Linked DNA regions of Homo sapiens: region 1 is linked to region 2. Evidence: fine-mapped expression QTL. Tissue or cell type: whole blood. Region 2 holds a variant in brackets; the other region holds the start of a gene. Each region is shown on its reference strand, or each on the opposite one.

Region 1 (9,922 bases), not on the chromosome of region 2:
AGACAAATTAATATAGCTTATTCTATAAATATATCTGTATATAAAGGTTTCTGTATATTGTATAGAGCTGTGTATAAACTGGATGTAGAAGCACGCTGGCTGCCTCGAATGTCTTTGCATCAGGTGGGGACTGGGTAGAAATTTGATGTCGAGGTTGCAGCAGAGCAGGGGGTTGGCATGGGGCCGGGGGCCGGGGGGGCCTCTGCCACTGTTCCCTGGATGGAACAGAAAGCCTAAGGGGGAAACAGATTCCTTGGGACCAGAGCCCGTTTCACCCACAAGACGCAGGGTGTGTTTGGGTGGTTCAGGTCCAGCCCTTTGTCTGTATTGGGTTAGAACTTCGTTTCTCAAAGTTCACGGTGCTCATGACTCACTGGGGCGCTTGCTAAATGCAGGTGCGGGTTTAGTGGTCCGGGGTGGGGCCCAGGTATAGATTTCTTACCTGCTCCTGCTCGGCTAGTGCCCTGGCCCGGGGCCACACTTTGAGTTGCAGGGAGGGAGTAGAAGACCCTTGAAGCCCCCTGTGAATGAGGGCAGCCACTTGCGGAGTCCTGCCTGTGTGAGAGATGTACCAGCGGGTGCACGTTCATACTACAGCCTGGAAAGATACAGCTTGCTGGCCTCCCCTTCCTCCCTGAGGGGTCTGAGAGGATTAGCTGCCCAAGACTGCCAAGCTGGCGACTGGGGGACCAGGCTAGTCTGACCATGCCCACCTCCCTCCCCAACAATGCAGACAGCTAGGGCAGGCAGGGGTGGAAGATCCCAGTGGGACAGCACTGAAATGCAGGGGCCACTAGAAGTCTTTGCTGAGGGCTTTCCTGAGAGGGCGCAAAATACCTGGCCAGACCCAGTGCAGCCCAGGAACCCCAGGCCAGCATAGCTTCCGGGCAGTGAGGCCTAGGGAGTGGCTGGAAGGCCCAGGTGGTGGGGCCTGCCCCCTCTACACAGCAGGTGGCGCTGTTCAGCCAGTCAGTCCCGCCTTGGCCGCAGAGTCTGGCCTCGGCACTGACCCAGCCAAGCTGACCGGACCTTTCCCTTCCCCTGACCCTGCCCCCATCTCGGCCCCCAGTGTCCAGTGGCTCTATTTGGTGAGGGGCTGGGGAGAGTGATAGAAGAATGCCCCCAGCCTTAGAGCCTGTCTTCACCCACAGCCACTGAACAGAAGCAGAAACGGGCCAAACAAGGGTGAAGACCTGCCCAAGGTCGCATGGGAGGTGGGGACAGACTGGGGACCAGAATCAGGGCCTCTCAGCCTAGGACTCTGGCCTCCACCACACCTGATGGCTTTCAGAGGTTCTTTGCCCTCAGTGGTCTCAATGGTCTGCAAATTATCCTGTCCAGTGAGCACAGCACAGGCAGAAGAAACTGAAGGCCAGGGAGGCTCTGTGGCTTGCCCGGGGCTGCAGCCAGGGTGTGGCATTGGGGAGGGTCTTGAGAGGGCAGTGCTGGGAAGGGCTAGAGAGGCACTCTGCCTCACGCTCCACTCAATACCTGCAGCAGCCCCCTCCTGTCCCGGTGCCCCTGCAGTCAGGAAGGGGTCTACCCTGCAGGACCCCACACTCAGGTGTGCCCTTGGGCCCTAGTCCGGGGAAGCTGGACCACCAGCCTCACTGGCTTGCTGGATTGACACTCACCCCACTTTGAGCCCTCCTCTTCCTCTGCGAAATGGCCTGATGCCAGTGCTGTGTGGGTCCACAGGAGGCCAGGAGAGTCCCACGGTGGGGAGGACAGGGCTGTACCTTCTCCTGGGCTGGCCTCTACGCCCATTACCCATTAACCCTCAGGTGCCAGCATCCCTCTCCCCAGTGCTGCCTTCGGTCTACCACCTCCTCCTGGCCCTGCTCCCACTCAAGGGACAGTGATGGGTGCTGAGAGCTGATTGGAACTGGAGAGGGCACCATTTACTGATCACTGACCTGGCACTTTACCTCCACTGTAAGGCAGGGATACTGAGTGTGCTTTATAGATGAGGCCTCTGAGGACAGAGGGCAGGCCTTGGGGACTAGGTGGAGCTGGCTACAGGGGACAGCCATGTCTGCTGGGCTAGGGCTGAAATCTCAGCCCCTCACTCACTGTGGCTCGGTAGAGAAGCCAGGGGCACAGATGAGGACTCATCTCCATTGATGGGCCCCCCTAGGTCCTTGTATGCAAGTCCCCTGGGCTACTTTCACCGGCCCAGCCACCTTCCTGCCCCAGCCTCTGCCCCAGCGCTGCTTGGGACCCAACTTCATTATGGAGTTGGCAGATGGCAGCCTCAACTCTTGGCTGAGCCCTTGAGTCTGGGACATTTCAGCCACCTCTTTCCTCCAGTCCAGAGATGAAAATCCCTGGGGACAGTTGCTCCTTTGCTCAGTGACCTAGTGTAACAGGGGAGATGGCAGGGCCTGAGCTCCCTTAGCCAGGTCAGCTGCTACAGGGTTAACAGGAGGCTCCATTCCACCCCTTCCAACTTCAAGGCTACCCTAGAGATTGAATAATCTATACTCTTAATTGATTATAATGCAATGGAGTTGGGGCGTTAGGGACAAAGTACGAGTCTTCCCTTCTACCTCCAGCCCTTGCTGACCAGGACAGGGACAATGTGTAGCTCAACGGATGGTGGTGAGAACTTAGATGATGGTCAGTTATGCAGTATGTGGGATACGGAGGAAAGATCCGTGGGTATGTGGAGGCTTGTAGAGAAGCTGGTTCTGTGGCTGGTCCCAGGCGACTCGTAATGTAAATCCGTTTCTCAGAATCGCGTGGTGTAGGCGGGTGTCTACTTTGTCCGCAGGCAGGCCTGACCCCGGGTGGAGGAGGGGCAGGGTGGAGAATAACAATTGTCTTAAGGGAGTCTGCGGAGGGAGAAAAACCTCTGGGGTGTATCAGCTGGAAAAGAATAGGAGTCTCAGTGTGGCCCCTCTCCCCCCTCTCAGCCCAGCCCCTGCGGGGGCGGTGAGGGAGCTGCGGTCAGCACACACAGCTGGGGCCTCCAGCAAAATCCCATTCTATATATCTAAGAGCAACAGCTCTGAGAGCGGCCCCCAGAGGGACAAAACCTCATTGTGAGGCACCCGCCGGCCTCAGCACCCCCTCCCCCAACCCCAGAACTGTCGTGGCATTGACCCTTTTCGGCGGGCCACCATGGGCCTGCTGACTGGGCCACATCTGGGGCTCAGGCATTGGCTGCCCCTCCCCCACGGCTGGCCACTGAGAACTGACAGGGAGGCTGGGGTGGGAGCGGCTTCCAGGCCTCTCACCCCATCCCCACGGGGTGGCCTGGCTTGTGCCCCACCCTCCCTGGGGATGCTGCAAGGCAGAGGTGAGAGTCCGAAGCTGGCTACGTTGGCATCTTGATCTGCCAGCAGTCCCCCACACCTCTGGCCTCTGTTTAGTGGCTTGTCAAACAGTGGTTGGGTGGGGTAGGTTTTTCCAGCTTTTACGTGCTGCCTTGAAGGGTCCCGAGAGGCTTCAAGTTGAGCCACTCTGAAGCGGGATGATTCTCTAGGTCTGGGATTCCAGAATTATCCGCTCCCAAGGTTTCAGAGGTCCAGGATTCTGTAGATTTTTGTTTGTTTGTTTGTTTGTGTTTGGAGACAGGGTTTTGCTCTGTCGCCCAGGCTGGAGTGCAGTGGTGCAAACATGGCTCACTGCAGCCTCACTGCAGCCTCAACCTCCTGGGCTCAAGCGATTCTCCTTCCTCAGCCTCCCCAGTAGCTGGGATCACAGGCATGTGCCACCGTGCCTAGTTAATTTTTTAATTTTTTGTAGAGACAGGGTCTTGCCATGTTGCCCAGGCTGGTCTCGAACTCCTGGCCTCAAGCAATCCTCCTGCCTCAACCTCCCAAAGTGCTGGGATTACAGGTGTGAGCCACTGGAGCCTGACTGGATTCGGTAGTTTGAAGATGCCACCATACATTCATTCAACACATTTATTGAGCACCTACTGTGTGCCAGGTCATGTTCTTGGTGTTGAAGCTATAGCAGTGACCGATACAGAAAAATATCTTGCCCTCGTAGGGCTTCCATTCTAGAGCAAGAAGGATAATAACAGAAACTAAATAGGAATCTTTTACATGGTGAGCAAGAAAGGCCTAGGTAGGGAGAACTGCTTTAGGTAGGCTGGTTGGGGACATGACATTTGAGCTGAGACCAACTGCTACAAAGAAGTAGCCATGTGGAGACAAGCATTGTAAACAGATGGAATAGCATGTGCCAAGGCCCTGTGGCAGGTGTAGGCCTTGCATGTTTGAGCAATGGCAAGGAGGTCTTGGTGGCTGTTATTCAGTGAGCAATGGAGAGAGGGGAAGAGCTGAGGCCAGTGGTAGAGGCGGGGCCTGAGAAACCAGAGCAAGACATTCAGATATTGTTTTGAGTGCAAAGGGAAACTTAGTTTTGCAAAGGAATGACATGATCGGATGTATGTTTCAGAAAGGGTGATTTGGGAGAACTGAAGGGGATATCAGTGAGACGAGAGGCTGTGCAAGTTGGGCAGGACAGAGATGTGGAGGCAGTCAGTCATAAGGGTGAAGGCAGGGGCACAAGGACAACCGCTTTATCCTGGACTTATATCGAGTTAGAACCTCCAGGTTTCATTATACCAGACAGGGCCACGGCAAAGGAGAGTTCGGATTCCCGGGGCAGCCAGGATTTGGCTCTGAACTTTAATGACCTTGAAACTCTTAGGCAGGGCGGGGAGCGGTGGCTCATGCCTGTAATCCCAGCAGTTTGGGAGGCCAACGTGGGCTGATCACCTAAGGTCAGGAGTTCGAGACCAGCCTGGCCAACATGAGGAAACCCCGTCTCTACTAAAAATACAAGTTAGCCCAGCGTGGTGGCGCCTGTAATCCCAGTTACTGGGGAGGCTGAGGCAGGAGAATCGCTTGAACCGAGGAGGCAGATGTTGCAGTGAGCTGAGATCGCGCCATTGCACTCCAGCCTGGGCGACAGAGCCGAACTCCATCTCAAAAAAAAAAGGAGCTTTTAGACCTGCATTGTCCAATACCACAGCCACACGTAACTGTTTAATTACAATTAAACAAAATGAAAAAATCAGTTCCTCAGTCTCAATAGGCACATTTCCAGTGCTCACTTGTGGCCAGTGACTACCATACTGAACAACACAGGGAACATTTCCATCATCACAGCCACAGGACAGGGCTTCCTGGCAGTCCTTAATGCATTGAGCCTCAGTTTCCCCATCTGTAAAATGCAGGTAACAACAGCATCTCCTTGATAAGGTGCCTGTGAGGAGTACATGAGATAATGCCTGTGTGGCCTGGCACATAACACACGTTCCCTAAATGCAGGTTGTTATTGTTGCTGAGCGGGGTGTGTGGGTGGCTAACGAGAGGGATGGGGGCTGTCTCTGAGGTTTGGATTCGGAATCGTGACATCTTGTCCCGTGCAAGACGAAGGCGAGGACGGCGAGGGCACACCCTTCCAGTCCCGACCCCACAGAGGCCAAGCGGCCCTTCGCCCCCACCCCGACCCGGGAAGGCCCCGCGCCCCTCAAGCCTGGGACGGTCTCGCGTCCCCCGACCCGGGACGGCCCCGCGCCCCGCAAGCCTAGGACTGCCCAGCGCTGAGCGCCGCCTGCAGGAGTCGGGAGCGTGGTGCCCGCGGCCGGGCTGGGCGCGGCGCGGGCCGGCAGGGGGCGCTGGGCGCGGCGGGCGGGGCGCGTGGGGCGGGCAGGGGCCGGGCCAGGGACGCGCGGGGGGCAAGCGCGGCGGCGGACCGGGCGGGACCGTAGCCGGAGCCCAGCCGGGACTGTCGCGCGGGCCGCGCCGGCGATGCCGCGCCCCCGGGCCGGGCTGTAGCGGGGCCGCGGCTGGAGTGTGCGCCGGGCAGGCGGGACATGGAGGTGGTGGACGAGACGGAGGCGCTGCAGCGCTTCTTCGAAGGTGAGAGACCGCGGGCTGGCGGCGGCGACCCTCTGGCGCTGGGAACCCCCGGCTGATCTCCCCGGGAACTGGGGCTCCTCGCTGTGTTTCCGCCTCCTCTGGCTGGGACCCTCCTTCAGGCTGGCACCAGCCCGCCAAGACAGGCTCCCGGGGCTGGGAGTCCCCCAGCGGTTACCACCCACCGCCGCTGAAGTTGGGCTCCCCCTCCCCGCTCCTCAACTCGCAGCTTCCTTGGGACTGTGTCCCCTTCCAGGTCCGGACTCCTTTGAGCCTTCCAGGACCCGGAACTTTCCCTAAATTGTGACACTCTCGCCCCCAGCAAACTTCCCGAGTCTGGGGACCCTCTACTTTGCTTCCCCAGAACCCCAAGCGGGATACAACCCCATTCAAGGCCCAGACCCCCGGTGTGCCTTCTAGGACCTTCCGTACCTCTTGAGGCTGGACCCCAGCCTGCTTCCCAGAATCTGTGACCCCCGCCTAGAGACCAAGACCCCCTGTGTGCCCTTCTGGTTGGCGCCATCCCCCATGACTTCTAGGAGCTGGGACCTCCCCACTGTGCTTCCATGAGGGTAGGACCACTTTCGAGCCTGGATCCCCTTGGAGACTGCCACCTGCTTTCCACAATGCTGCCTAGTGACTGCTCTCCTGTTTGGGGCTGGGACCCCCCTCCCTAGCATGCTCTCCTGGGGCTGGAACCTTCTTGAAGCTGACATCCCTGCCACCGGTCACCTCTGCTCTCTGAGACCCTTCTAGTGCTGTGAACTGCATCCCACCAGCCCTCTGAGGCTCCTCAGCACTATGTCCCCCCAACCCTGGAGCTGTGCCTCTCTGACCTCGCCCCCTCAAAGAGTGACCTCACCCCCACTTGACCGAAAGGAGCCCTCTGGGGTGGAATTGACATACACCCCATAATATCTTCTTCTGCCCCCACCCCTACATTGGTTTTGGAGGTCTGCTCCTCCATCTAACCAACTCCCTGTCTTTTCCTGGACGACCCCTGCCCCTCCTGCAGGGCCACCACTCCTCCTGGTGCTGGGTTCTGGAGGGATGGGACCGCAGTGGGAGGGGGAGGGGAAGTTCTGGCTGACTGCCTCCCAGCCCACTCCGCTTCTCAGAACCTCCCTGGAACATCTAGCCAGACCCTCTGGCCCCCTTTTGTGCCCCTGTCTACCAATGCAGCGAGCCCAGCCCCTGCCCCGAGCTCCCTCTAGTCCCTAAGGCCACATCCTGCTCCTTGGTGCATTGAGAACCTTCCCTTCATGTGTGAACCTATCAGGGCTACAGGGCAGGGAACCAAGGCCCAAGTTTCAAGCCCCAGATTCCTGTGGAGTCCTGTGGAGGAGAGAAGCAGGTCTTCCGGTGCCTCAGTTTCTCTCCCTCTGTGACTTGGGAGGCAGGAACCCTTGTTCACACCTGCTGGCTGAGCAGCCCAGGCAGGGGCACCCCTAAGCCTCAGTCATCCCACTCCAGGATTCTGGACACCCCACAGACCCAGAACCCAAGAGTTCAGGCTTGGACTAGATTGAATGGTTGACTCTGCATCAGGTGGGCCATCTGAGGGTCTTAGGCAGCCCTGCATCTGTCCCGGGGCTCTGGCTCTCCCCAGACACTGTTGATCCATAGGAGCTCTCGAGGGGCCTGACGCGGTTTGAGACCTTCAGGGAAGAGGGGACCAGACATTCGTGCTTGCTTGGGTTACTGTCTGGAGTGCCTTGAGCCTGCTAGGTACCCAGAGGACCCGCAGGCCAGGCTCCCTTGACCTCCACACTGCCTGCCCCAGGACGCTGGGCCCTGACAGAGAGCAGAGGGGTGGGCCTGGCTGGCCTGGACTCCCTGGCTCCCTCCTGACCATGGGTTGGGGGGTGGGGGCTGACGCCACGGCTTAGCCATGCAGCGGCCTGGCGGGGGGAGGCTGCGCTACTCCCTCCAGAGAGATAAGAGGAGACTCAAGAATGTCTGTGGGGAGCAGGGGAGGGGTGTGAGGCTGCCCGTCTAGGAGGGCTGGGCTGGAAACAGCTCCCAGCCCCTGCGATGGGGGAAGGTGTGGGTGGCCCCTGAGGCCTAGGGTCTCCAGGCCACTTGGGAGGGGAAGGCCCATGTGGGGGACCCACTGTAGGTGTGAGAGAAGGCCTGGGAGTGGCAGGGCCTGGTGTGCTTGTGAGTGTGTGAAGTGCGAGGGAGCGGGAAGTTGTGCTTTTGAGCCGTGGCTGCGTCACTCTTGAGTGCTGTCACACTCGGGGCTGGGGCTGGGGACACCTGAGCTCTCATCCTGGTCCCCACTTGGCCTTGGTCATCCCTCTGGACAGTGGGTAGCAGTCCCTGTGCTCTCGGCTCTGGGCTGGGAGACTGGGAAAGGGTTTTACCGAAGGGGCTGCAGCACAGCGCGCCCCCTCACCTGACGTGGTCCCCCTCCCTGGGCACACACCAAGCATAGGTGCTGGGTCCTGCCCTGTGCCGGTGGTGGGCTGGGGGCTAAGGCGCTTTGGACCTCAGGTGGGAGGCCGGGACAGAGCGGCCCCCTCGAGGCTGGTACAGCCGGGCCCCCGTGACCGCCCGGCTAATCCCCTAGAGAGAGGCAAGGCAGCCCAGATCGGCGGGCACAGGGCCTGCAGAGAGGGGACCCACCGGGCAGGATGCACTGGCTTCCAGCAGGTAACCGGGCCATGGTATAAGGGGGCTTTGGACTCCAGAGCCAGGGCAGGCACGGGACAGGGCAGTGTCTGAGAATCCTGCCAGGACCTCAGAGTTCTGGTGCAGGCTGGACCACTGAGAGTGGGGTGACCGTCTGTGCCTGGCAGGGAACCCCCAAAGAGCTCTTGCCCTCTTTAAGTCCTTTTTCCTCACCTGCAAGACAGGAGGGGGTGGCAGAGAAGAACCTCAGCTCTGAAGAAGCTCACTGCCCAGCCCTGGGAAGGAGAGACATGTTAGAGTATGAATGGCCGAGCCTGGAAGGGGTGCCTGCTGGCCCTAGATTCTAGGGGCACATGAGGCTCGAGTGAGCAACCAGTGTCCCCCAGAAAGCAGGTGGGTGTGCAGGGAGCCTTGGAGGATGGAGGGAAGTCGCCTTCCAGCAGGTGCTGGAAAGACCACTTGGAGTTTAGTGGGCCTCTGCCCGGCCTCTGGAGCCCCACCAGGGCTGGAGGAGGGAGGCCTGGGATTTCGCCCCTTCTGAAGCTGATGGGTGGCTGGACTGGTGACTTCCTTCTCTGGCCTCATTCCCCTCCCAGGGTAAGTAAGTGGGTTGGACCAGAGCAGGGGCTTCCAATGTGATTTTTTAACCATCAAACAAACTCATAGTCTCCTGATAGGACAGATACAGTGGATAATGGGGGCTGGGCTCCTCACAGCCCCTGAAGCACCAGGATACTGGTTTGAAAGCCACCCTTCCCGGCTGTGGGATGGGTAAGGGGAGGGGAATGGCGCTGGCTGAGGCTCAGAGAGAAGGGAGTTGGCCAGAGTTAGCCAGAGTGGACACCTAGCCCCCAGCTCCCTACTCTGCCACCAGTACCTTGGGGTTGAGGGGGCTACCTGTCAGGGACCAACATCTCTGCCTCCAGAGGGCAGGAGGAGGTCCCAGGTAGAGACTACCTGATGATTTGGAAGAGAGGACTCCCACCTGGACAGGAATCCGGGGGCTGAGCTGGGCTTCGTGATGGGGGTGGCACTGTGGCCCGTGTCAGCCTGTCTCTGTCTGTCCCTGGTGCACCCAGGGAGTAAGTAGATGGGAGGGGTGGCCAGGCACAGGGTTTCCTGAGCCCAGGCAGGGGAGGAAATGGTAGTAGGGGGTCTGACTCATCCCCATGTCCCCAGCACCCAGTGCAGGGCAGGGGTGGGGGGTGGGCAGGAAGTGCTCTCCGGGTCAATGGTGACAACAATGGGTATGTGAACAGAGGCGGCGGGGGTGGGGGACGCACCCCAGAAAGCACCTCTCTGGAGGGCCTGGGGTCAGTGCAGGGGTGAGAAACAGGCAGTTACCAACCCTTTGGCCTCAGGGACTCTCCTGAGACTGGAAGGCTGGACAGAGTGCTCCTTGGGGTCTT
Region 2 (12,126 bases):
GCAACTCTATTCAATAAGTACAGTCATTACAAAAACCATACTCCATATTTTGGATATAAAGGGTGAAATACTTGAGGAATGGTGCGGAAGATACACCTATGCCACAGCAGGAGGCCTGGACAAAAGCACAGGGGACAGCATCAGGTCTGAAATCTCTCTGCTCCTCACATAAGCTATGACAGACCTCCACCTTACTGTCACCAATGGTTCTTTGAAAAGCTGCTTAACATAGTCCATTTATATTCATCACTAAGCCTTTGTAGGCCACACTCCAATGAAGACCCCTAAGGCTACGACATTAGTGATCACAACAGCCTTACCAACCTCCACTAATTCACTCAGCATTCACAAAATCAAGATTACATTGCTGTGTCACACGTGGTGCTCTGCTAGGCACTTTGGGAACTGTTAATATTAACACGTGCTCCCTACATGTAAGGAGTGTATAGACCGTAAGTTTGACAGGCTTTTGCTTTAAAACTGTATTTTGCAGATGTGTCCATTTGGCATACTTTTCTAACAGCCAGAGATGACTGGCTATTACAGTTCCTTACAACCTGAAGATTAAGGGGAAACAAGCGAAAGCCACAGTATGGTTGCTGAGAGGATTAGGTAGATTAATCCGTGGAAAGCACTGAGAACATGCTGTTACAGAGAAGCATTCAGATATTTGCTACTTATGTTTCTATTAAAATAATACAGGCAATTCTTATTTCCCTTTGCTCAGAAGAAAAATATGTAGATGTTTCATGTTTAATTTGGTTAATTGAATACATAGAATTTCTCCATGAAATATGTTCTCGGGTAAAACCTTTGATGATCTTTCATTATATACCACCACCAAAAATTACACTAAAATTGTGAAAGAACCTTGAATGGCCACTCTAAGTGAACTAAATGGAAGGGTATTTGATTGATTTACCCATTAAATTTCATATATATATATATATATTTATTTATTTATTTATTTTTTAAAATTTGAGACAGGGTCTCACTGTGTCACCAAGCTGCAGTACAGTGGCTCAGTCATGGCTCACTGCAGCCTTGACCTCCCCAGGTTTAGGTGATCCTCGTGCCTTAGCCTCCCAGAATAGTTGGGACTACAGGCACGCACCACTAAGCTGGGGTAATTTTTGTACTTTTAGTAGAGATGGGGTTTTACCAGGTTGCTGAGGCGGGTCTTGAACTCCTGGGCTCAAGCAATCCACCCACCTCAGCCTCCCAAAGTGCTGGGATTACAGGCATGAGCCACCATGCCTGGCCCTAAATTTCATATATATTTAAGGACACTTATGAAATTATTTGGGATCATAAAGGAAACGTATTTTTACTAAGGATGCATAATAACAGTTCCTTAATAAACTACCTTGATTACATAAAAGCATGAAAGGGAATAATGATTCACACTGTCAAAATACCCCTAAGTGATGATCCGCCACCCTCCACAATATGTCCAATGACAGAGAACTCTTTAGTTCTGAAGGCAGCTGGTGCCTATTATCTGAATATGCTACTGAAATTCTTTTTTTTTTTTTTTAATTTTTCCTTTTTCATGGTTAGGAAAGAGGGTGGGTGGGGAGGGTCTGCTTCCTGAAATTCCTATCAAATGGCTCTAGTTGCAGCCTTTGGGCCTCACACCCCACTGAGATTCACCCCCACTGTCTTGCTATGTTGTCCTGTTACCACTCCAAGAGGAAAGAGGGAAAAATCCATTTGGACACTGTAATCCCAGCACTTTGAGAGGCTAAGGCAGGCAGATCACCTGAGGTCAGGAGTTCAAGACCAACCTGGTCAAGATGGTGAAACCCCATCTCTACTGAAAATACAAAAACTAGTTGGGCATGGTGGCACACACTTGTAGTCCCAGCTACTCAGGAGGCTGAGGCAGGAGATTCGCTTGAACCTGGGAGGCAGAGGTTGCAGTGAGCTGAGATCGCAGGCCATTGCACTCCAGCCTGGGCGACAGAGCAAGACTCTGTCTGAAAAAAAAAAAAAAAAAAAAAAAATATATATATATATATATATATATGTATGTATATATAATATTAAAATATGTGTGTGTGTGTATATACATATATATGTGTGTGTATATATATATAGAATAAAGATACCTGATAAGGGCACTTCAAGAAAGGAAACAGTTTAAGAATGTCCTTCAGAGGTGTTCGGCTGCCAATCATCTTTCTTCTTATTTCCAAAGTTTGGCTCATTCTCTTGTCAATTTCTCTCCAGTCCTTTTCTGTTTTCACGTATTCTTGCTGGAACCACTTAATATGTTCATCTAGCTCAGAATCAAAACAAACAGCTTCTTCCTGCAAAACATTTTCAACATATCAATGGATTCCATGTTTCTATAAAAACTTGAATTTCAGGCTGTTATTGCACACTCTTAACTCATTCCTAAGGTGAGTATCACCATACCTGGTTACACTTGACATTGAGCATAACTAATAAATGGACAGTCTTTAATGACAATAAATTAGATAGTTAATTACTTATCATGGAATTATAATCTATTCTCTTGAAAGATCTAAAAGAGTTACTTTAATTCCTACGTTATCCTTTTATATAGAGACAGATTATCCAGAAGGTTCCCACTGAATCAAATGTTGCTCATTTCTATGCATTTCAATTTTAGAAGATAAAATGTTAAGAAGATATTTTTAAAAGTATTAAGGTTTTGTTATTACTATTATCTTTTTTCTTTTTAAATGCCTTTTTATAGCTGCAGTACCATGCCATATAATCCAAATTCAAAATAATAACAGTGGTTATTTTCTGATGCTAAATCATTAAACTAATAATTTTATTCACTATACAACTGGGTACGTTGGGCGGAGTGGGGGCAGCTAAGAAACACCTCACTTATTCTTGTTGAAAATCTAAGACAATCAGCTTTGAGGAAATAAGAAAAATATCTTTCTAGAAATATGAGTTAAGAGGACAGTCAGCTGAACTGCATGCAAATCAAAGTTGATCAACTGTCTAGCTGACCAGAATGTGAACAGATGATACCTATAAAAGACGAAAAAGGTGATAAGGAATCTACAATCCTCTTATATCAAGGCTTTTACAAGCACATAGGAAAGCCTCAGTAGATCTACTTTCTGTGAACACAGAATGACTAACAAGACCTAAACCAAGTGAAGGAACGCCTAGAAAAATAAAATTATCAAAATTAAGAAGAAGTTCCTATAATCTTATACAAATTTAGTTGGAAGATAAAAGTCTTTCCACAAAGAAAATACCAAGAAAGACTTGAGGGTTTTACAGACAAAATCTACTTAACTTTTGAAACAGAGTGTTCAAATTTATGCAAAATTTTTCAAGAAAAAGGAAAGGAGGCCAGGCATGGTGGCTCACACCTGTAATCCCAGCACTTTGGAAGGACGAGTCAGGAGGATCACCTAAAGCCAGGAGTTCAAGACCAGCCTAGCCAACATAGCGAAACCCCACCTCTACTAAAAATACAAAAATTAGCCGACACAGTAGCATGCACCTGTAATCCCAGCTACTTGGGAGGCTGAGGCATGAGAATTGCTTGAACCGGGAAGCAGAGCCGAGATCACACCACTGCACTGCAACCTGGGAGACAGAGCAAGACTGTCTCAAAAAAAAAGAAAAGAAAAAAAAGGAATACTCTCTAACCCATCCTTTGAAGCCTCTATGACACTGATCCCCAAACCTGAAAGAACAGTGTAAGAAAGGAAAAGTGCAGTCACTCTCGTTCATGAACAAAGTTGCAGATATTAGAAACAAGGAACAACTAACTTGAATTTATTATACCTCAGAAACTCAAGGGTAGTTTGACATTGGTAAGGGAACTATAGCAAATTAAAAGAAAACATGATTGATTTACCCATTACGTTTCACATACTATCATACTAAAATCTCAGTTTGGGGGCCACTGTTATAGAAAGATTCGGGGCAGAAAAGAGGTAGGTTTTGAGAAACGTGGTGTATGAACAGTATGATTGTTGGGCACAGCAGCTCACACCCAGTAATCCCAATACTTTGGGAGGCTGAGGCTGAGGGTTACTTGAGGCCAGGAGTTTGAGAGAAGCCAGGGCAACATAGCAAGGCTCTATCTCTACAAAAACAATAATAAATGTTGGGAGGCCGAGGCGGGTGGATCACCTTAGGTCAGGAGTTTGAGACCAGCCTGGCTAACATGGTGAAACCCTGTCTCTACTAAAAATACAAAAAAGTAGCCAGGTGTGGTGGCACATTCCTGTAATCCCAGCTACCCGGGGGACTGAGACAGGAGAATCGTTTGAACCTGGGGGACAGAGGTTGTGGTGAGCCAAGATGGTGCCACTGTGCTCCAGCCTAGGCAACAGAGTGAGACTCCGTCTCAAAAAATAAATAAATAAATAAATAAATAAATAAATAAATAAATAAATAATAAAATTACAACAGTTCCATAATTTTACTTGGATTATCTAAACATGTGTAAACGTCATATACTGCATTAATTAACTAATTAAAGATGAAAAAACATGACCATTTCAAATAACGCAGAAAAAGTATCTTATAATATCCCTCTATGATTAAAGAAAAAAACTTTTGTCAAAATAAGAGAAATTTTCAAAACCTATAAAGTTATATACCAAAAACCTAGAGCTAACATATTTTTTTTTTTTGAGACAAGGTCTCACTCTGTCACCCAGGCTGAAGTGCAGTGGCGTGATCACAGCTCAGTGCAGCCTCAAACTTCCAGGCACAAGTGATCAACTGTCCCAACAGATGGGCCTACAGGGCCATGCCACCACATCTGGTTAATTTTTGTATTTTTTGTAGAGACAGGTCTTGCCATGTTGCCCAGGCTGGTCTTGAACCCCTGGGCTTAAGTGATCTG[C/T]TACCTTGGCCTCCCAAATTGTTGGGATTACAGGCATGAGCCACCACGCCTGACAGATATGATTTTTAATGGTGAAATTTTAAAAGAATAATCTTTAAAATCAGAAGCAACACAAAGGTGCTTTATTAAACTCTTACTCAGCCTATACTGAAATTCTAGTCAGAGTAGTAAGACAGGAAAATAAAAGGTATAAAAATTGAAAAGATAGAAACGAAATTGTCAATATTCATAGATGATGTGATTGTTCAAGAGAAAACTTAAAATCATGCATATGTAATTTGTTACAGCTGAGTTTTTCAGAGCAACTGAATACAAGATAAATATTCTAACATACGCTAACATAGAAAATACAATTTTTTACAATTATATTTTGCAAAAAAAAAAAATTAAATTGCAAAAAAAACCTTATAAGATACCTAGGAATAAAACTAACAAAAAATGTGGAAGACTTTTAAGAAAATTATGAAACTATAAAATATTAATGAGACTTAAATAAATGGATAGCCTATTATGTTCACAGCTAGCAAGATTCAATATTGTAAGAAAGTCATCTTTCTCCAAGTAGAGCTGCTGATTCAATATTTCTGTCAAAATCCCAAACCTATCAAAAACCACAATTTTTTTTATCAGAACTTGACTAGCTGATTCTAAAACTCATTTGAAAGATTAAAAACCTCAAGAATGACCAAGGCATTCTTAAAGAATAATAAAGCAGTGATGGGAAAGTATCAAGACATTTTACAGCTATGTAAGTAAGGAAGTTGGTATTGATGCAGGGATAGATGACTTTACTAGCGGAAAACAGCAGAGCTTCTAGACACAGAGCCATGGAAACAACAGAGATGGCATCACGAATCTGAGGAAGAGAATGACTATTTTCTGAAAGGTGCAAGAAAATTTTCTATCCATAAGGAAAAAAAAAATCCCATATGGCTTAAGAAGTTAAATTTTAAGAGCAAAAACTTAAAAAAATTTAAAGAAAATATAGAAATATTTCTTATCACTTCAAGGTAAGAAAGGATTTCCTAAAAGTGTTACCAGTGGAGGGCCTTGACTACAAGTTGTCCAGGTTCTTGGCGTTTTGAACAAAGAATTGGAAGAAATGCACAACAAAGCCATGAAATAAAGAAGCAACAAAAATCAGATTTATTGAAACAAAAGTATACTCCACAGAGTGGGAGCGGGCTCAAGCTGGCTGCTCAAGAGAATTTTCTGGGTTTTAAATAGCCTCTAGTGGTTTCCCACTGGTGACTCGGTTTACACCCTATGTAAATACAGGAGAGGCCCACGACCAGTCTGATTGGTTGTGGAAGGTGACCAATCAGTGGCTGAAGTTACAAAATTACACTCTATGCAAATGTCTGATTGGTTGTGGGAAGGGACCAGAGGCTGAAGTGAAGTAGTGAAGTAACAAAGTTATATCCCAATGCAAATGAAGACTAGGCCTGCTACCAGTCTGACTGGTTGCAAGAGGGGACCAATCAGAGGTTGATATGGTTTGGCTCTGTGTCCCCACCCAAATCTCATCTTGTAGCTCCCATAATTCCCACCTGTTGTGGGAAGGACCAGTTGGGAGATGATTGAATCATGGGGGCAAGTCTTTCTCATGCTGTTCTCATGGTAGTGAATGGGTCTCACAAGATCCAATGGTTTTAAAAACGGGAGTTTCTCTGCACAAGCTCTCTGTTTGCCTGTTGCCATCCACAGAAGATGTGACTTTCTCCTCCTTGCCTTCTGACATAATTGTGAGGCCTCCCCAGTCATGTGTAACTGTAAGTTCAATAAGCCTCTTTATTTTGTAAATTGCCCGGTCTCAGGTATGTCTTTATCAGCAGTGTGAAAACAGACTAATACAGAGGTACTTTCCATTTTTCATCTGCCACACAGAGGCGGGTGGGAGATTGCAAAGGGAGTAGCCTCTGGTCCTTTTGTTACCTGGGCATGAAAAGTTGGGGTTTTCCTTTTGATTCAGTTCGAGGAAGTTGGTGCAAATTGGCCTTAGGCTTCCTGCCTTCAGACCCTATTCTCCTGCCTCAGAAGCACTGATCATAAGACAAATGATTGATAACTCTAACTACATTAAAATTGCAACCTTGTCTTTCCTTGTCAAAAGACACCAGAAAGAAATTTAAAAGGCAAGGCACAAACTGTGAGAAGATATTGGGAACAAATATAATTAGTAAAGGAGTAGAATACAGAATATACAAAGGATTTTTACAAGTAAATTGAAAAAAAGGCAGCCTCATAGAAAAATAAGCAAAAGACATGAACAGACACTTTACAGAGGAGGAAACATGAATATTTCATAAACATATGAAAAGATGATCACCCTCATACATAACTAAAATGGAAGCCAAACACAGTACCATTGTATTCCCAATAGATTGGAAGTGGGGTGGTGGCATTGCATGGGGGTGGGGTGAGTGGAAAAGAAATCAGATGATTAACGAGTGCTGCTCAGGGAGCTTAATCATCCAGGAAAATAATTTGGCACTGTCTTACAGAGTTGAATATCTGCACACCCTGTGAGCCAGTGAGCCAGCAAATCCACTCCTAAGTATAAATCCTTGAAAAAAATCTTCACATATGCTTCAAGACACACATACAAGAATAATCACAGCAGCATAGTTCATAACAGCCAACACTGGAAACAAATCAAATATCCGTTAAGAAGAGAAGAGCCAAATAAACTGGTTGCCTGTCACAATAGATTAAACCAACAGGAAAACGAATAAACTACACTCAACTGAACAACCTGGATGAATTCCAGTGACATTACATTGATTGAAAAAAAGGAACTTATCAAAGCCAACATATAGTTTTCATATCATTTTGTAAACCTTAAAAACAAGCAAAACTAGAATTTGTTTTAGGCTGGGGTAGTGAAGGAAAATTCGTGGAAGATGAGGAACTGATCAGATTTTAAGGGATAATAGAATTTGAAAGAAGAAAGGACAGTTCTGGGTGGAGAGACAGGAAGGGCAGAGCATGTTACGGGAATGTTTAGCAGAGCAAATCTGAAGATTGTGGAAAACCATAGACGGCCAGGGTTTAAAGCTGGGACTTAAAGGCGATGAAATCTTTTAATTGAGGTTGGAAGAATAGCTAGGAAACTTGTGAATGCAGAGATAGAGATTTGATATTTCTTTTAAATTATCTAGATTTAGATATATAGAAAGGGAGAAAATTATAGGAGCAGGAGAACCAGGATAATGGATTGTCAACGAAGCCAAGGAGTTTCAAATGTAAAATGTGGAAGGTGGTGAAAAGAAAAATAAAAATCTTTAAGCTTCAGATATGTCAGATCTTCATTTACTTTCAAGCTTTGTTTGTATATGTTTTAAACTGTTGAACATAAAAATGGACTACAGAGGATTTATTCAAATAAAATATGTGCTTGAAAAAAAAACAAGCAAAACTAAGCAATATATCCCTTAAGAATTCATGCATATGTGACAATGTCATTTATTTTTAAAACAGGTGAATGATAAACATAAAATTCAGAATAGTGATTAGTTCTAGAGGCCTGTGGTGTTGGAAAGGCAGGTGACAGGAGAGGGGAGGAAAACTCAGGCACACACAATGGTGCAGGCAGTGTTCTAGTTCTAAAGTTAAATGCTGAGTTAACAGTGTTTATTTTGTCTCATAAACTACATATATGTTACGTATGTAGTTTTTCTTCTGTATGTCTCAAATGCATAGAATGACAATTTCTTAAGTAAGAAAACATTTTAATTTTTTAAAGTACAGAAAAAATGTTTTAATTATCTAAATGGCTTTCTTTCATCTACTGAAATATAGTAGAAGTTATATAATTGCTGATATTGACATTTAGATATTACTGTATTTATAATGTACTACTTCCTCCAAAACTCTTACCCAATCATGAAAATAAAGTTTCTAGATAACTTCCACCTGATCAGACTGATGGGATTAACACAGTGTTGGTGGGTTGTATTCTAGACTGAAGTGATTTTCCTAATTATTAAAAAGCTACATCAGAATTTAAAATTCTCACCATTTTAATGATTTACATATTGTTAGATTTATATATTGTTAGATATACTGTTAATGATTTATATATTATTAAAGCTGGAAAGAACTTAGAAACCACCTAGTCCATGCCTCACACTTTACTGATGGGCAAATTGAGACCCTCAAAGGGGAAGTGACTTTTCCAAGCACAGAGATGCTCAGGTGTGCAGGTTTCTTTTAGGGTATTTCCTCACTTCTCTAACAGGCTGATTTCTTTAACAGTGCACGTTGAAATGAGGCAACTAGTGAGTAAGAAATGTCTGAATCTTACAGAACAGCAGCTGGAAACAGCTGCTGACTGTTGACTTCAAGATGTCTGTCTCAGCAGACAAAGTTAATGGAGGGCCGTGCTCAAGGAGGAATCAAAGAAAGTAGACATGAAGCACGAAAGAGATCACTTCAGGCCAAGAAATACACTGAAGGGAAGTGTAGGACTCACCTTTGAGATGTGTGACTTTAGAGGAATCAGCGTAAATTAACCAGAACATTAACTTGAGTTAAAGCCAAACAAATTGTATAAAGAGCGTATGCTATGCTTCCTTTACCACACCAGTTTTGGCAACATAGAGTGTGGTCTCTCTACTCCAACACCACAGTAACCTAAGCTCTCACAGAGTTGGTTGTAATAGCAGAGCATAGTTCTAGCCAACTTTTAGTTTAAGCTGACAGCTGGAGCAGAAATAAGGAGGAGAATATTTCTAAGTTTGATTTCAACAGAAGAATGAGTCTGCTTTTGAAGTAGTAAGACGGCATGGTTAAAAATGTAGTTATAGCTTTTTTATCTCCCAGAAATGAATAAAAACTCATCTTGACTTTTATAAAGATAACTTTGTTCTATATTCCACAATCTGAAAAAGTTTACAAAGAGAGTATCTTGTTATGAAAATGGAATAATTCTCTTTAAAAAAATTTTTTTAAGAAAACGGTATCTTGCCATGTTGCCCAAGCTTGTCGTGAACTCCTGGGCTCAAGGCTTTCTCCCATTTCAGCTCCCAAAGTGCTGGGGTTACAGGCATGAGTCACTGCATCTGGTCCCTGAATAATTCTTATAAATACCCTATGAAAAATCTACTTTAAAGGCACTATGTAAATAAAGGTTTCATACCTAAGATTGTGGACTGTAGCTTCTGAACATCACCAGCAAGTAACTGGACATACTCCTGGCTAACTATAGTGTTCTCTGCAAATTGTCATCTCACTTATTCTCTAATTACCCAAGGGGTGTATTTGTCTGAGCTGTCCAGTATGGTAGCCACTAGCCACATGTGGCTTCTGAGCACGTGAAATGTGACTAGCCCAAATTGATATTTCTAATTTTTAACAAATTTAATTGTCATTTTTATTATTTTTTAATAGAAGAGTGGGTTTTGCTATATTGCCCAGCTGGATTCTAACTCCTGGGCTCAAGCAGTCCTCCTGCATTTGCCTCCCAAGTAGCTGGGACTACAGGCATGTGCCACTGAACCTGGCTTTTCTTTTTCCCCCAGAGATAGCCCAAATTGAAATGTAAGTGCAAACACTGTATTTCAACTATTTAGTATGCAAAAAAAAAGAATGTAAAATATCTCATTAAAAATTTTTAAGAATGATTACATGTTGAAATAATATTTTGCATATAGTGAGTTAAATATACTATTAACGTTAATTCCATTTGCCACTTTTTAAAAATTTCTGCTACTAGAAAATTAAAAACTACATATGCAGCACATATTATATTTCTATTGGACAGTGTTGTGTTAGATACTAGGTGTTTCCTCATACCAAATCCCAGTCATCCTCATTTCCAATTCTATTGTCGTCAAGTGTTGACTTGGAAATGATGTACCCCCTATGGAACTTGAACAGTAGCTTAGCTTAGCATTCAGGCATGTGTCTCAGTCAATCAGCAGGCAGAGTTTCACCCATGCAACCTTGCCCCATGTTTCCAAGTGTGCAGCTTACTTGTAAAACTTCGCAGTATTAGTAAATATGCCACCTGCTAATGACAGTAATTGCACTCTATGTAGAATGAAATTAACTGTCAAGATTTGTCTTCAACTTTTGCTGTCTTGTTCAATTTTCTATCATGAGAGAAACATCTGTGGAAAAGGCTATAAAATAATTAGTATTTATGCAATAAATCATTATGTGTCAGGCCTAGTAAAAAACCAACAGTAAGTGTTGTAAGATAAATCCAAAGAAACTTAGTAAATATTCTTAACATTTGACTCACTAGGTAGTTTTTGTGCAACTTTAATTCTATTTTATTTCCAAGCCAAATAAATCTAACACACAAAGCTATTTCATAGCTTTCAAAGCTATAGGGTATATATGTACCCAATAAGTAGGAAAAGAAAATGTTTTAAGAGAGAAATGAATTATAGGTATAGTGTTAATAATTTAACACCTGGTAGTTTATGTGGAAGGCTTTGGAATACAAGAACATCCTAAAAGCATTTATCAAATCCATGCATCAGTATCCTACACATAAAGTAGGTTGAAAAAAAAAAAAAAAGAGGCACAAGTTAACCTCTCTAAAGAAATTGCCATGTTGTTCCAGTATATATTTGATAGAATATTTCACATCAGAATGCGGCAAAATGTTAGGTATTTTTTCCTCTATGTTTCAGACTTAGAGAAATGTCCTTAACATTAAGGTCACAAAGGAGACAATCAATTCCTAGTACTGAGGGCTTAGAAAGAATCTTCAAATAAATTAGCTGTAAAAATGAAAACTAGGTGTTTTTACTTAAAGCAAAATCATTTTTTCCTATGTTCTAAGTGTTCTTATTACAACAAATGGCAGTAACTCTCATATATTTCCCCACGCTAAAGATAGTACAAGGACACAGATTGTAAAACCACAAGGGAGGATGGTAGGACTAGCCTGATCCTCAAAAAATGCCTTCATTGCTTCATGAAGCAGCACAGGCACAGGAGAATCACAGAGAAGTGGATCGAATGCTTGACAGTGTGTTCGGAGTCCCTGGTATTACCTGCAACAGGCAAGATTACACTGCCGCACCTGATAACCCCCACACTTTATAGTGACAAAAGTTTATCACACATATGACATGCCCACCTTGGGTCCTGCTCCTATCCCCCTTACCCAAGGACATGGCTCGATCATCTAGAATGTTGTCAGTTGTCACTAAAAAAAGGGGAAAATGAGGAATTGTATACTGGATCTTTAATGCTCATGTCACATCTGCTCACATTTCATTGGCCAGCCTTGTCACCACACCTAACTTCAA

Evidence for each region. PIP is the estimated chance that this variant, and not a neighbour inherited with it, causes the effect. A credible set is the group of variants that fine-mapping cannot tell apart.
Region 1: MYRF starts here. The variant in region 2 is the best candidate, but not a certain one, in a credible set for the expression of MYRF in whole blood (TOPMed, PIP 0.52).

What each region holds. Positions count from the first base shown.
Region 1 is chr11:61,746,909-61,756,830 of GRCh38, forward strand. MYRF (myelin regulatory factor) reads left to right here and starts at 5,728. Exons shown (of 27, transcript NM_001127392.3): 1 at 5,728-5,882. The coding sequence starts at 5,837. MYRF-AS1 (MYRF antisense RNA 1) reads right to left here. Exons shown (of 4, transcript NR_026882.1): 3 at 8,727-8,788; 4 at 7,121-7,537. DAGLA (diacylglycerol lipase alpha) reads left to right here. Exons shown (of 20, transcript NM_006133.3): 20 at 1-93. RefSeq lists enhancers at 257-1,118, 1,979-2,840, 9,144-9,922, 9,207-9,852, 9,853-9,922 and silencers at 5,518-5,657, 5,778-5,877.
Region 2 is chr6:130,152,714-130,164,839 of GRCh38, forward strand. SAMD3 (sterile alpha motif domain containing 3) reads right to left here. Exons shown (of 12, transcript NM_001017373.4): 9 at 2,112-2,312. Among named protein-coding and RNA genes, the nearest start is that of SAMD3, 64 kb to the right of the region's middle. RefSeq lists an enhancer at 1-552. The variant C/T (reference allele first, on the strand shown) is at 4,859.